Linked DNA regions of Homo sapiens: region 1 is linked to region 2. Evidence: fine-mapped expression QTL. A gene starts in region 2. The other region holds a variant in brackets. All regions are shown on one strand. Distances are from middle to middle.

Region 1 (5,530 bases), 33 kb after region 2:
TTTATAACGATAATTTTGATCTGAGTGTTTAAAAAATCAAGCTGTGTAGCTCCTCTTTTACACTGCTAAGAGCAATCAAAATTAGTCTATGAAGTTTTTGGTGCATAAAGATTTCGTGCCACGACAGTGAGCAACTTTGTTAGATCCTTAAGCTCAGATGGACTTATATTGTTTATTCTGTGTTACTTGAAATTCAAGACTTTTGGCTGCCAGAAAATAAGCAGCTGCCACAAGTAAATCCAGAGGAATCAGGAATACTGAAATTTCTTTTCTGTGGAGACCTGTTCTTTGATGTCTCTGAGACAATACTAAACACGAGTTTCACTTAATTTCAAAAAAGTTTGCTTCATAGTTACAATCAGCTTTGCAATGAGAAGAGATCTCTTATCGTTTTTCTCTAGAAGAAAATACATTTTAGGATTGGAAATCAAATTGAATATCAAGAGTGTATAGGAACACTGACATGCTTTTACAGATGAGCAGACTCAAATTATTTTTGAAGGGCACTGGAATTTAAATAATTGCTCACATGTGCCTTGTAAAATAAATATTGCTTATGAAGTGTGCCAGCAGTTCTCAAACTGTGGTCTCCACATCAGCAGCATCAGTGTAATTTTATGTGTCAAGTTGAATGACTCATGGGATGCCCAGATATTTGGTTAAATATTATAATGGGTATGTCTCTGAGGGTGTTTCTAGATGAAATTTTAATCAGTAGACTCACTAAGGCAGACTGCCACCCCAGTGTGAGTGGGCCTCATCCAGTCTGTTAGAGGCATGAATAGAATAAAAAGTCAGGTAAGGGAGAATTCACGGTCTCTGCCTGACAGTCCTTACATCTGGGACATCAGGCCCAGTGCTATGGCTCATGCCTGTAATCCCAGCACTTTAGGAGGCCAAGGCAGGTGGATCACCTAAGGTCAGGAGTTCAAGACCAGCCTAGCCAACATGGTGAAACCCTGTCTCTACCAAAAATACAAAAATTAGCTGGGCATGGTGGTGCACACCTGTAGTCTCAGCTACTCAGGAGGCTGAGGCAGGAGAATTGCTTGAAACCAGAAGGAGGAGGTTGCAGTGAGCCAAGGTCGTACCACTGCACTCCAGGCTGGGTGACAGAGAGAGACTCCATCTAAAAACAATGACAAAAAAACAAAAAGCAAAAACAAACAAACAAACAAACAAAAACCAATCTGGGACATCAGTCTTTTGCCTTTGGACTCAGACTAAAACTTACTATTGGCTCTCCTGGTCCTCAGGCCTTCAGACTGCAGATCTTGGGATTTTCTCTCTCTTTCACTACATATGTACACACACGCGTGCATGCACACACACACACACACGCACACACACACATATCCTATTGGTTCTGTTTCTCTGGAAAACCCTAATATACTAATACAATCAGCTTCACCTTAGAAAGGTAAATTCTCAAGCACCCTCAGTCTTTTCTTTTTTTTTATACTTTAAGTTTTAGGTTACACGTGCACAACATGCAGGTTAGTTACATATGTATACATGTGCCATGTTGGTGTGCTGCACCCATTAACTCGTCATTTAACATTAGGTATATCTTCTAATGCTATCCCTCCCTCCTCCTCCCACCCCACAATAGGCCCTGGTGTGTGATGCTCCCTTCCTGTGTCCATGTGTTCTTATTGTTCAGTTCCCACATATGAGTGAGAACAGGCGGTGTTTGGTTTTTTGTCCTTGCGATAGTTTGCTGAGAATGGTGGTTTCCAGCTTCATCCATGTCCCTACAAAGGGCATGAACTCATCATTTTTTATGGCTGCATAGTATTCCATGGTGTATATGTGTCACATTTTCTTAATCCAGTCTATCATTGTTGGACATTTGGGTTGGTTCCAAGTCTTTGCTATTGTGAATAGTGCTTCAATAAACATATGTGTGCATGTGTCTTTATAGCAGCATGATTTATAATCCTTTGGGTATATACCCAGTAATGGGATGGCTGGGTCAAATGATATTTCTAGTTCTAGATCCCTGAGGAATCACCACACTGACTCCCACAAGAGTTGAACTAGTTTACAGTCCCACCAACAGTGTAAAAGTGTTCCTATTTCTTCACATCCTCTCCAGCACCTGTTATTTCCCGACTTTTAAATGATCGCCATTCTAACTGGTGTGAGATGGTATCTCATTGTGGTTTTGATTTGCATTTCTCTGATGGCCAGTGATGATGAGCATTTTTTCATGTGTCTGCTGGCTGCATAAATGTCTTCTTTTGAGAAGAGTCTGTTCATATCCTTCGCCCACTTTTTGATGGCGTTGTTT[GT/G]TTTTTTTCTTGTAAATTTGTTGGAGTTCATTGTAGATTCTGGATATTAGCCCTTTGTCAGATGAGTAGATTGCAAAAATTTTCTCCCATTCTGTAGGTTGCCTGTTCACTCTGATGGTAGTTTCTTTTGCTGTGCAGAAGCTCTTTAGTTTAATTAGATCCCATTTGTCAGTTTTGGCCTTTGTTGCCATTGCTTTTGGTGTTTTAGACATGAAGTCCTTGCCCACGCCTATGTCCTGAATGGTATTGCCTAGGTTAAAAAGAGCCCTCATTGCCAAGTCAATCCTTAGCCAAAAAAACAAAGCTGGAGGCATCACGCTACCTGACTTCAAACTATACTACAAGGCTACGGTAACCAAAACAGCACCCTCAGTCTTAAAAACTTAGGGAGTGGGGTTCAGCAATCAGAGTTTTAACAATCTGTCTTGGTAATTCTGTATATTAATATTTGAGAACCCTGTCTCTGACTAATGACCTCTTCTCTGCTTATACCTCATGGTTTCTGCTTACTTATATCTTTTACTGCCTCATTGCTTTTGCATAATGCTTTTTCTGTCCATAGGTTGTTTTGTTTTATCTTGCTTTTTAGTTTTAGCGTCAGTCCATAGTCTGCATCCCACTCTGTGTATTACTATTCAAGTTCCCAAAGAGAGAAGATCTGGCATAAAATATGCCAAAGTAAGGGAGATCCCTTATTAGGCAGAACTCTGATATCAGATCCTCTCATTCATTTATTCATTCATTCATTCATTCACAGCTATTTATTGAGATCATGTCTTTCATATTCTAGACTTTGGAGACACAGTGAAGAAGTTAAACAAAATATTCAGGTATCCATTGCTCTTAAATCCTAGTTGGAGGGATGAACAGAAAATAGAGTAAATATTTATGGTCCACAATCTGTTACCTGTGATTCTGAAATTCAAAAAGCTCTTCAAACTAAAAGGTATTTCCTAACTCATTTGGCAGCAAAATCTGACCTGACTTGAACTCATCTGGCAGCAAAACTTGACCTGAAAAAAGGTGAAGTTATTTGTAGTCTTTAATTATCTCTCTTACTAGGAATGTCCATGCATTGAAGAAGTATTAATGTTTGATCATGGAGAGCTGCCATGGACCCTGATGAGAGTATGCCATAAAGCCTTTATAAAATTTTTTTAAAAATTGAATTCTGAAACACAACTGGTCCTAAGGGTTTTTGATATGAGATGTGGACCTGTTATAAAATGTCAGGGAGTGCAAAGTGCTAGGAAGAAAAATTAATCAAGGTAAGGGGATAGATAAAAATGGAAAATGCTACATAGATCCTAAGCATGAATGATTGTTATGGGTCTACCCAGCATGCATCCAACTCTAGGAGCAATCACTAACATGTGGGCATGAAGAAATATAATCATTTGTAGAAAATAGAAGGACTTTGGCAAAAAAAAAAAATCCTTCAAGAGGAACTTAAGTTAAAGTCTTCTAATCAGTTCCCACCAAGTAATTCCTTAAATACAATAGAAGATTTTACTAAAATTATAGCCTGATATAGTAAGATGTGAATGCTTGTAAAGTATGTAGAATTCAAGGAAATGGATTTAAAAAGAGGGAACTGTATCCTCTTATAATGGGGATATAAATATATGTTTAGATAATTGATGACTAAATGGATTAATTAGTGACATGGAGAAGAGAGTCTAGGGAGCAAGGGAGTCTGAGTTATCCCTGTGTGTATGCACGTGCATGTGTGTGTGGCCCAACCAAAGCATATTTATGGCCTTTTTATTATGCAAAAATGGCATATGGAAATCTTCTATGAAATGTTAGTGATAGCATCAGCTCTGCCAACTTTAAATTCTGGTGCCACTATTTACGTTTAACATTTTTCTCATGTTACACTGCATGTAATAGTCTTCACCTGCTAGGAAATATTATTACTAAGCTATTATTAGCATGTTTAGTATTATAAGTGGTGTCTGACTCTTCTGCCTTTTCTTATTATTTTATCTTGAGTGTATAATTTATAACAATATTTACTGTGCACTAAACTGTCATAAGCCCAGGGTAAACTTAGTGAATATTAAAGGATGGCTATGCATCTTTGTCATGAGCTAAATTAAAACTTTTAAGTGATTTCTGCCTATTTGATCTCTAAAAGTTTTAAATGAAAAGTTATGTTTGGCAAAGAATTATGCATTGATAGCTATGAAATCATAGTTTGGGGGGAAAATAATCTTTTATTTATTTATTTATTTTGAGATGGAGTCTTGCTCTGTCACCCAGGCTGGAGTGCAGTGCGTTCTCGGCTCACTGCAACCTCTGCCTCCCGGGTTCAAGTGAGTCTCCTGCTTCAGCTTCCTGAGTAGCTGGGATTACAGGTGCCCACCACCACACCTGGCCAATTTTTGTATTTTTAGTAGAGATGGAGTTTCACCATGTTGGCCAGGCTGGTCTCGATTTCTTGACTTCAAATGTCCCACCCACCTCGGCCTCCCAAAGTGCTGGGATTACAGGTGTGAGCCACCGCGCCCAGCCGTGAATCTTTTTGTCATCCCCCTTAGCACATGATCACACAGTCCCTGCTTGATGCTCAAGGTAATAATTGGCTGTCTCCATTTCTTTCTACGACTCCATTTTTGCTCTATAATGAGTAAAACATAGTATTAGCAAAACTATGTGCTTGTGTTTTCTGAAGCTGTAGAGACTAGACTACTCCTTCAACCTTTAACATATACTGTTATATTTGACCCTCGCTTTTTCTTTCCCAAGTTGTCACAGAAATGATTTTGTGACAAATGTTTTTGGAGCTTTTCTTCATAGTTCCTGTCTTCTAAACCAATTGCCCTCCATTGGACACTGTCTCATTTTGTTTTGTCCATTTGAAAATATAATACCCAGTTGCAGCCACAGCAACCTAGGAGGGCTATGACCAATACAGAACATAGTGACACTAAAAGTTTCCTATATCTGGAACCATGCTGTTATTTTTGCAATCCTATTATATATTTCCTTGTTTATTGTTTTATGCTGTTAACAGCCTTTGGCACTTTTGTGGCACCTCACGTGAGCTACTCTGGACCTTAGCTTTTTACATCTTGTCCTACAGATTCACGTTTGATTGTATAAGTGATATGCAGAAACCAGTCTATTTACTAGTCAGTTGGTAGGTTGATGTGATACAATTACACACAGGAATGGTTCAAAATAACTGGAAAACTTAGGATTACATTAATTATAATTTTAAAAGCAGAATT
Region 2 (5,000 bases):
ACTATCCTCTATGTAGTATTGTCTTCCACCTTTACCAGTCTCTGAAATTGAGAGGAGGTAACCTTAAAAATGTGAACTAGGAGGCTGGGCGCAGTGGCTCACACCTGTAATCCCAGCACTTCGGGAGTCCAAGGTGGGCGGATCAACCAAGGTCAGGTGTTCCAGACTAGCCTGGCCAACATGGTGAAACTCCCATTTCTACTAAAAATACAAAACTTAGCTGGGCATAGTGGTGGGCACCTGTAATTCCAGCTACTTGGGACTGAGGCAGGAGAATCGCTTGAACCTGGGAGGTGGAGGTTGCAGTGAGCCAAGATCCCGACACTGCCTTGGCTACAAGAACAAAACTCCATCTCAAAAAAAAAAAAAAAAAAAAAAAGTGAACTAGGAGAATCTATATTAAAGAACCCCTGTATCACCAGTGTGCCCCCTGACTTCATTTTGGGGGTTAGAACTGGTTATATAAGTAGGACTTATATAAGTAGGTTATATAAGTTATATAAGTAGGTTATATAAGTAGGACTTAAAAAAAAATGTAGCTCCCTCTAAGGAGGGAGGTTTGTGTGAAAAGACATTTTAGTGCAGTGAAACATTAAAGCAGAGATCCACGATGTCTGAGTCAATAGAACAGATTAGCAGCTGCTGAAAGATAGAAACCAAGTCTGAGCTGGTTGGTACTGGGAACAACTGCCTTAGCTAACAAGGCACTTGATCATTTTCCCCCCACATAAATATGCTGTTTGGCAGTGAATGTTTTCACTTAGGTTTCCCAAATTCCCTGCTTCTTCCTTAAAAATTTGTTTGGGGAAGGAATCTAATATGCTTAGCATATCAACTGTACTGTCTTTAGATAATGAGAAATGCGCTGAAAGACTATTTGCCACATTCTCTTTCAAAAATACAAACGTGTTAATTATAACCTCCAAAAAAGGCAAGAAGGATTTCATGCCTTTGCCCCTACACTTTCATCCATTTAGAATACCCTCCTCTCCTTCCATGCTCACCGATTTGGAATCTCTTAGTTTTTGTTTTGAGCCTGTTTCGAATGCTGCCAGAAGCCTGAGGTCCTCTTACCTTTTCACACCATCCCCACTCCCTAACCCCCTGCCACTTTGTATCTCCTCTGTGGCCCTGAGGTATTCTGATTTTTGTCTAAAATCTTAATCCCACCACAAACAAACCAGGGCTACAGGAATGAATCATCTTTATAAATTCCTCGTTTTTTTTTTTTTTTTAAATCAAAAGCTCAATAAACATTTGCATGAGTTACTGACAGAGAAGCAGCTTCAACGCTTTAAAAATGAAACTGAAACCAGCGGAAAATCTAAAACTGAACTCTATCAGTAAACTGAACTCTATCAGTTTATTAACATTACAGCAGGTCTCTGTTCTGGTGAACTCCCTGGTGCTCTTACTGCGTTACCCATTTTTGTTTTTTTCGCTGCACTCACCAGTCTAACAGTATCTGCCCACTGGATTCACAGCGCTGGCACGTGCCAAGCGCCTAATAATTGCTCACTGGTTTGGCGGCTGACTACCCAGGAGAGGAAATTAAACACAAAGGCAGTATTGATCATATTCAGTAGTGTTTCGTGCGTTTGGTTTGGAAGTGGGGATTGGGGAATGGCCAATCACTTCCAAATTTAAAATATTGCTTCCTGGAAGAAAATGGACTCCTCAAAGACTGGATATTTCATGTCTGTAGTCCCAGGACCTGGCCCTGCGTCAGGCACATTGTAGGTGTTGAAAATGCACCTGAGGAATTCTGAGTTGCGCGGAACTGTGTATTCCGAGCACAACGCGTCGTTAAAAACCAAACAAAGCAGAACAAACTTCGTTCAGAAGCGACTCCCGCTATACTTAGAAACTAGAATTGACCCCTGGCTGCAGGGTTCCGCTTTACCAACACACCGCAGGGAAAGGGCTTAGAAATAGTGAAAGCGGCCGGGGGCGGCGGGTCACGCCTCTAATCCCAGCATTTTGGGAGGCCGAGGCGGGTGGATCCCCTGAGGTCAGGAGTTCGAGACCAGCCTGGCCAACATGGTGAAATCCCGTCTTTACTAAAAATACAAAAAATTAGCCAGGGTGGTGGCAGGCGCCTGCAATCCCGGCTACTCGGGAGGCTGAGGCAGGAGAATCGCTTGAAACCGGGAGCCGGAGGTCGCAGTAAGCTGAGATCGCGCCATTGCACTCCAGCCTGGAAGAGTGAAAGCATGTAGGCTCTCGTTTCATGAAGACAAAGATGAGGATCACACCCACAACGACACAAACATGGTCTCTCAGGGTGACTTAGAAGCGAAGGAACAAAGTGCGCTGCCTGGGGAGGCTGGGTCTTGTAGAAGCAACAGGAAAGTAGAACGTGGTGTGGAAAGGGTTAAAACTGGCGCTCGGCGGGATACAGGGCTCTAGGTGCCTTAAAGAACACGCGGACACACTTGTTTGGCTTCTGTCGCGCTCCGTAGAATGAGTTCCCTGGGCCTCGGTGGGCCACGCCTCCGCAAAGAAGGACAACGCGAAGCTGCCCGCGTAGTGCCTGTTGCACTCGCCAAGGACCGGCCTGGCAGAGATAGAAAACTCGCAGTACGTTTGCCTCAGAACCGCCTCAATCCGGAAACAGAAACTCCCCAGGCCCGGCACTGCGGGAGCCACCTCTTTCGAGGGTGGGAGTGCACATGCGCACAGGGGACCTGAAAAACCCTTAAATACCGGCATGCGTGCGGATGAGGCCTCTTTCCCTGCCGCCGCCGAGTCGCGCGGAGGCGGAGGCTTGGGGTAAGTTGAGCGAGGCGGCAGGGGGGTGTATTGGTTATAATTTGTGGCTCGTTGCGTTCTTGCTGGGATTCGTGACGAGTATCTGGTTCTTTAACAAGTCAATGCTTTTGTTTTTTAGTGCGTTCAAGATTCAACTTCACCCGTAACCCACCGCCATGGCCGAGGAAGGGTGAGCCCAGGGGCCGGGGTTGGAGTTGGGGTCGGGGTGCGGCTGAGGCGTGGGGCTAGAGCTGGCGGAACAGGACTGGGTCAAACGGGTCGCCGTAAGCGCGTCTGTTGTACACTTAGCTTTTGCTGAGTGCAAGGCCTTATGTGGTGTGAGGATTTTAACTGATGGTTCTGATGTGTCGCGTTTAAGCATTGCTGCTGGAGGTGTAATGGACGTTAATACTGCTTTACAAGAGGTTCTGAAGACTGCCCTCATCCACGATGGCCTAGCACGTGGAATTCGCGAAGCTGCCAAAGCCTTAGACAAGTACGTGTATCAGTCTCAATACTGTGGGTTCTTGCAACCGGAACAAAACTGCCACCCAAGGGAAGAAGGCATGGAGTTCATGGTGTTAGCGCAAAAGTTCTGAATGGCATCCGTCCTACCGGAAACCTAGGAAAAGGTATCAGAACTCAGATCTATAAAGCCCACTTAAAATGTGTGGGTTGCTGTTTGGAATGGGGATAAGCACTCAAAACTACAGTGTTTGAATGATGACTTTAATTGTCGGATACCCCTTCACTCCTTTTATGAGTGAAACATAAGAGTCTGACAAACCTGTAGGTTGTGGAGCTAGTCAGTCTTATACTTATCTGGCAGATAGATGAGATGGAGAGCCACATTACATCTGGTAGTTTGCAAAACAAGCATTAATTTAATGGAATTTCAAACTCAGGTTTCAGAAGCATTTGGTCCTAGATGAATTTAGTAGTATAATAGCTGTGATTTATTTGAATTTGGGATATTTGTTAATGTATTTGAATGGATCGAGTTAATGTGTTTTTTAGGGTGGTGGCATTGACAAATCAACCTACTCTTGAGCTGAATTTAAATGCAGTTTTAAGGTTTTACAGGACAAGTTCGTTTTGGTGTAATCTAGCCAGTTCAATCCGATGGAAACGGCATTATTGTTTAATGTATTTAGTAGGTCCTAGTATGAGTCTTCTGTATTTCTATTTCGGCATTATTGCATGGCATTTCATAACTGTTCCATTAATGCCACAGTCTTTTTTTTTTCTTTTTTCTTTTTTTTTTTTGAGACAAAGAGTCTTGCTCTGTCCCCCAGGCTGGAGTGCAGTGGCGCGATCTCATTGCAACCTCTACCTACCAGGTTCAAGCGATTCTTCTGCCTCCCGAGTAGATGGAATTACAGGCACACGCCACCATGCCCAGCTAGTTTTTGTACTTTCAGTAGAAACGGGGTTTCGCCATGTTGGTCTCTGGCTGGTCTGGTACTCCTGACCTCGGGTCATCTGCCCCCCTCGTCTTCCCAAAGTGCTGGGATTACAGGAGTGAGCCATCGTGCCCGGCCTTTCACATGTTTCTTTAGGTATATGAAGCTGGCTTACAAGAAAGCTATTATGGTTGGGTTTTGGCCAGAAGTTTTAAAAATGACTTACACCAATTCAGTGTGTCAGGGACAGAGGTTTTACTGAAGACCAGTTGTAGGTTAATTGAAGATGTATATGCTCCCTAGCAGGTTCTTCAGACTCAAGCAATTTTGTACGCATTTATGTGTTCAGTGGATTGGCTGCTTATGTTTCGCAAGTGTTAGTGCAAAGATAACCCTCCTAAAATGCAAGAATGATGGATTTGGATCTGAGTTTTAGCTCCATTTTCATTGTAATTTGAATTTCAGGCGCCAAGCCCATCTTTGTGTGCTTGCATCCAACTGTGATGAGCCTATGTATGTCAAGTTGGTGGAGGCCCTTTGTGCTGAACACCAAATCAACCTAATTAAGGTAAGGCTGCTAAGGATTGTGTTGGGACTAATGTTCAGTGATGCTTGTATATGGGGGTAAATTCTGTGAAGTCTCAAGCTGTTCATTTTGTGCAGGTGTAAACATTACGTGCACCTGATACTGTCGGCCATTTTAAAGATGATTGTAGGTAGAAGCATTTTATACCTGCAGAATTGAATCCTAATTTTGACGTTGGTATACAACAAAGATTAGTAGCAGGCTTGTAGGTGATCTTAGTGCTGTACATGATGACAACTGGCTCCCTCTACTGAACTGCC

What was found. PIP is the estimated chance that this variant, and not a neighbour inherited with it, causes the effect. A credible set is the group of variants that fine-mapping cannot tell apart.
Region 1: its variant is the best candidate, but not a certain one, in a credible set for the expression of RPS12 in whole blood (INTERVAL, PIP 0.71).

The regions. Positions count from the first base shown.
Region 1 is chr6:132,844,434-132,849,963 of GRCh38, forward strand. No RefSeq gene overlaps it. Among named protein-coding and RNA genes, the nearest start is that of SNORA33, 30 kb to the left of the region's middle. The variant GT/G (reference allele first, on the strand shown) is at 2,294.
Region 2 is chr6:132,811,842-132,816,841 of GRCh38, forward strand. It overlaps RPS12 (ribosomal protein S12), which reads left to right and starts at 2,728. Exons shown (of 6, transcript NM_001016.4): 1 at 2,728-2,772; 2 at 2,891-2,941; 3 at 3,131-3,247; 4 at 4,620-4,722. The coding sequence starts at 2,928. It overlaps SNORD101 (small nucleolar RNA, C/D box 101), which reads left to right and starts at 3,466; the gene lies at 3,466-3,538. It overlaps SNORD100 (small nucleolar RNA, C/D box 100), which reads left to right and starts at 4,961; the gene lies at 4,961-5,000. It overlaps LOC107986644 (a long non-coding RNA gene), which reads right to left and starts at 2,447. Exons shown (of 3, transcript XR_001744345.3): 1 at 1,452-2,447. RefSeq lists enhancers at 1,194-1,263, 1,693-2,439, 2,354-2,633, 3,064-3,193.